Linked DNA regions of Homo sapiens: region 2 is linked to region 1. The links come from fine-mapping of genetic effects on gene expression. Tissue or cell type: whole blood. Region 1 holds a variant in brackets; the other region holds the start of a gene. All regions are shown on one strand. Distances are between the middles of the regions.

The links. PIP is the estimated chance that this variant, and not a neighbour inherited with it, causes the effect.
Region 2: GOLGB1 starts here. The variant in region 1 is fine-mapped to the expression of GOLGB1 in whole blood (TOPMed, PIP 0.97).

What each region holds. Positions count from the first base shown.
Region 1 is chr3:121,671,821-121,674,508 of GRCh38, reverse strand. The region is part of intron 17 of GOLGB1 (golgin B1); the gene reads left to right. Among named protein-coding and RNA genes, the nearest start is that of HCLS1, 12 kb to the right of the region's middle. The variant T/C (reference allele first, on the strand shown) is at 1,160.
Region 2 is chr3:121,748,545-121,751,232 of GRCh38, reverse strand. GOLGB1 (golgin B1) reads left to right here and starts at 1,492. Exons shown (of 22, transcript NM_001366282.2): 1 at 1,492-1,601. RefSeq lists enhancers at 1,525-1,764, 1,785-1,834.

The DNA of each region.
Region 1 (2,688 bases):
ATTGAAAATATTCAGGAAAACATGAATTTTAAAAATACAGTATAACAACTATTTATATAGCATTTGTATTGTATTAGGTATTATAAGTAATCTAGAGATTATTTAAAGTATATGGGAGGCCACAGGTAACATTGTACTGAACAGGGAAAAATTGAAGGCCTTTCCTCTAAGATCTGAAATAAGACAAGGATGCCTACTTTCACCACTGTTATTCAATATATTATTAGATACCCTAGCTAGAGCAATTAGGCAAAAACAAAACAAAAAAAAAAGCACATCCAGATTGGAAAGGAAGAGGTCAAATTAGCCTTTTTTGCAGATGATATGACCTTATACTTAGAAAAACCTAAAGAATCCACCAAAAAACTGTTAGAACTGATAAATGAATTCAGTAAAGTTGCAGGAGACAAAATCAACAGGCAAAAATCAGTAGCATTTATATATGCCAACAGCAAACAATCTGGAAAAGAAATCAAGAAAGCAATCCCAGTCAGCCATGGTGGCTCATGCCTGTAATCCTTGCACTTTGGGAGGCCAAGGTGAGTGGATCACTTGAGGCCAGGAGTTTGAGACCAGTCTTGCCAACATGGCGAAATCCCTTCTCTACTAAAAATACAAAAATTAGCCAGCCATGGTGGTGCACGCCTGTAATCCCAGCTACTCGGGTGGCTGAGGCATGTGAATCACTTGAACTTGGGAGGCGGAGGTTGCAGTGAGCTGAGATCGCACCCCTGCACTCCAGCCTAGGTGACAGAGCGAGACTGTGTTTCAAAAATAGATAGATAGATAGATAGATAGATAGATAGATAGATAGATAGATAGCAATCCCATTTATAATAGCTACAAAGAATTTAAAATACTTAGGAATCAATTTAACCAAAGAAATGAAAGATTTATAAAACACTGTGAAAGAAATTGAAGAGGACACTAAAAAAAGGAAAGATATTTCGTGCTCATGGATTAGAAGAATTAATATCATTAAAATGACAGTACTACACAAAGCAATCTACAGATTAAATGCAATCCCTATCAAAATACCAATGACATTCTTCACAAAAATGGGAAAAAAAATTTAATATGTATGTAACCACAAAAACTCCTAACTAGCCAAAGCAATCTTGATTAAAAAGAGGAAAACTGGGTCGAGTGTGGTGGCTTA[T/C]GCCTGTAATCCCAGCACTTTGGGAAGCCAAGATGAGTGGATCACCTGAGGTCAGGAGTTCGAGACCATCCTGGCCAACATGGTGAAACCCCGTCTCTACTAAAAATACAAAAATTAGCTGGGCGTGATGGCGGGGGCCTGTAATCCCAGCTACTTGGGAGACTGAGGCAGAGAATTGCTTGAACCCGGGAGGTGGAAGTTACAGTGAGCCGAGATCGCGCCACTGCACTCCAGCCTGGGTGACAGAGCGAGACTCCGTCTCAAAAAAAAAAAAAACCAAAAAACAAAAAAACACACAAAACAAAGCTGGAAGCATCACACTACCTGTTTAATGAGCATGATACTGGCATAAAAACAGACACACAGACCACCAATGAAACAATTAGAAACCCAGGTATAAAGCCAGGCATTTAGGGGCAACTTGTCTTTGACAAAGGCACCAAGAACATATGATGGAGAAAGGACAATCTCTCTAATAAATGGTGCTGGGAAAACTGGATATCTATATGCAGAAAAATAAAACTAGACTCCTATCTCTCATCATACAAAAATCAAATCAAAATGGATTAAAGACTTAATTCTAAGATCTGAAACTATGAAACTACTAGAGCAAAACTTGTGGAAATGCTTCAGGACATGGATCTAGCCAAGGCTTTTTTTGTGTAAGTCCTGAAGAGTACAGGCAACCAAGGCAAAAATAGACAAATGGGATTACAGCAAGTAAAAGGCTTCTGTTCAGCAAAGGAAGCAATCAACAGAGTGAAGAGACAATCCACAGAATGAGAGAAAACATTTGCAAACTACCCATCTAACAAGGGATTAATAACCAGAATATATAAGGGACTCAAACAATTAAATAGCAGGAAAACAAATAACTCAACTTAAAAGTGGGCAAAAGATCTGAATAGACGTTTCTCAAAAGAAGACATACAAATGGCCAACAGATATAAAAAAAAATACTCAGCATCCCTAAACATCAGAGAATTGTAAATCAAAGCTATAGTGAGATGTCATCTCACCTTTGCTGAAATAGCTTTTATCAAAAAGACAGGTAGTAACAGATTCTGGCAAGGATGCAGAGAAAGGGGGAACTCCCATACACTGTTAGCAATGTAAGTTAGTACAGCCACTGTGGAGAACAGTATGGAGGTATCTCAAAAAGCTAAAAATAGAACTACCATATGATCCAGCAACCCACGTATCTACAAGAAAGAAAATCAATATATCAAAAAGACATCTGTACTCCCATGTTTATTGGAGCACTGTTCATAAAAAACAAAACATAGAATCAATGTAAGTACCCGTCAACAGATGAATAGATTAAGAATGTGGTATATGTACACAAGGGAATATTATTCAGCTTTTAGAGGTATGAAATTCTGTCATTTGTGGCAACATAGATGGAACTGGAGGACATTATGTTAAGTGAAATAAGCCAAGAACAGAAAGACAAATATCACATTCTCACTCGTGTGGGAGCAAAAAAAAAAAAGTGAATCTCATGAAGATAGAGAGTGCATTGGTAGTTA
Region 2 (2,688 bases), 77 kb before region 1:
CTTTAGATGGCAAAATGCTTAGGGGAAAAAGAAGCAAAGAAGAAGTATATAGTGCATGCAGGAAATTGCAATTTTATTTATGTTTGTATTGATACATATTTGTACATATTTATGGGGTGTGGTAGTTTGATATATGCATACAATGTGTAATGATCAAATCAGGGTGTTTAGGATATCTATCACCTCAAACATTTATCATTTTTGTGTTTGGAACATTTCTAATCTCCTAGTTATTTTGAAATATATAACATATTGTTAACTATAGTCACCCTACTGTGCTATCAAACACTTGAACTTATTCCTTCTATCTACGTTTGTACCCATTAACCAATCTCTTCCCTCCCTCCCCCAACTCCACCTTCCCAGCCTCTGGTACTTATCTCTACTCCATGAGATCAACTTTTTAAGCTCCCACATGAGTGAGACCATGGGATATTTGTCTTTCTGTGCCAGACTTATTTCACTTAGAATAATGACCTCCAGTTCCGTAAGATGGGCAGCCAGGAAAGGCCTTACTTAGCTGATGTTTGAATTGTGAAGTTATGTAATCATTAAGATGAGTATACATACAATGGGCCAGCTGAGTGCACAGCAAGATTCAATAAATTCAAACTAACATTACTCTTATTGCCAAGAGAGTGCCTGAAATGACAGCTCATTGGAAACTGGCTACTTTCCTTCCCTTTCCTTAGGGGTTTAAGGAAAGCATGAGTGATTTCAGTCTTTTGCTGGAGCTCCTCACTGACACTCATTGCAGAGCCTGAGCCCTCAACTCTCAATCTTTGCTTAGGTCCTGGCTTAGGCTCCACTTTGTAAGAGGCACCTTCCTAGTATTCACTACTCTCTCTCTCACAATCATGTCCTTACAGACATTGCTGATCCTCTTTCATACTGACACCGGGTTCTAGTCCGAGTTCCATCACTAAGTCGCTGTTTGACTTTGGGCAAGTTACTTCTGTGGTTAATTATTTTTCATCAACAAAATCAAAAGGTGAAACTAGACGAACAACTAAGAGGCTCCAGTATTTTTTCAATCTAAGAGTCCCATATCCCCCACTCCCTTCTCACAGCTCATTCAACAATCCTAATGGCAGCGGGTGCCCGCAGTCTCAAGTCTCTGCCGAAGCCCAAGCCGCTGTCTCGGTCAGTCACAACCGACGAAGAGGAGGAATTGGAGGAAGCCAGCATAACCACTTCACACTGAGAACATCTGACCTTTCCCAGAACGCCCGCCCACTCGACACTTCCTGTCCCTCCCCAGATCTTGTTCCGGGGCACCTACTCGCGTCTAATCACTCCCCTCATTCACTCTTTAGGGTCCATTGGCTGTTTCTTTGAGGAAGCGGAGCATCTTCTGTCGTTGATTGGTTTCCGTCATTGTTGATAGGTTGGTAACAAACAAGGTGTGCCTGGTCTCCCTGGTAACGTCCTGCCGATAGTCCTGATTGGTCGGTGTCTTAATCCCATCTTCCGTCCCAACTGCTAGTGGCTGAGTCCCTGGCGGGGCGCGGCGGTGGAAGGTGTCGCGTACGGGCTTCCCGAGCTGACGTGGCTTGAATTGGGAGGGGGGCAGCTGGAGCCTCAGGCGGCAGCGCTTCTAGGTGAGTAGGGGACGCTACCCAACTCTTCCCTCTGCGAGTCCAATAACGGTCACCCCCGCCAGAGGGGCCGCGGGAGCTGCCCAAGCAGCTACACCGGAGTCCCCTCCTCGCCCCGCCTCTCCCGGATTCAGTCCTGGATCCGGCCCTTCACCCGCCTCCTTCACCTACCAGGCCTAGTTCTAGTAGCCCACAAGCCTCGGCCTCTCCGGTGGGCCTTCGGGGTCACCCTGCGCAGACTTGGACCACTTGCTCACGGTCTGTCCCCTCCCCGGTACGTTTCTCCTCTGGGAGCGACGGGGAAAAGCGCCTAGGTCAGTCCTGTCCGCACGGCCTTGTTCCTGGAGCGGCCTGCCTAAGTCGGCCTCCGTACGCAGCCGCTGACGTCGGAAAGAACCTGCTGGGCCCCTGTGCTCAGGCCCTAAACAAACTTGGTGTCCCGAAGGGGAGGCGCGACCAAAAGAAATCAAAGGTCTTTAGGGCGGAGATCACAGAATCATTGGAGATATTAATGCAAACGGAGGCCTGTCCAATAATCCTGCTAATGCTAATGGGTTACTGGAAAGATGAGAAGAGAGGAAAGATCCCAACGATCCCGTCAACACGAAAATCCCAGGAATCAGAGGTGGGCAGGCTGTTAGAGAAAAAGGAACCTCTAAGAGAGTTCTCGAGGAAAAATAACTTGGTTTGATGGTGTGGAGTATGTTTAATCTGCACAACCGGAATGTGAAAGGGAGGGTGAGTCCTTTGAGGAATGAGGAATATATTTGTCTGACTTATTTAAAGAGCTCCAGTTGGTCTATGGGGAGCGGACAGTTTGAGAGTGGGACAGGGATATTTACAATCATGGGTAAGTACTTTCACTTTTGGAGATAGTTGGAAGCTGTCTGAGCATTTAAAGGACCTTTTTACAGTTCTGTGCAAGATGCAAGCAAGTGGAGGGCTCTTTACATAAGGGCCAGAGGCCTTTCCAAAAGCGTGAATTGATAAGATTTAGATGGTCAGAATGGTTATGAAGGGGCAAACTCAGGAAATATCCTATTGGAAAAATGGCAGGATTTGGTTTTGGAATAGATGCAGGAAAAAGTTG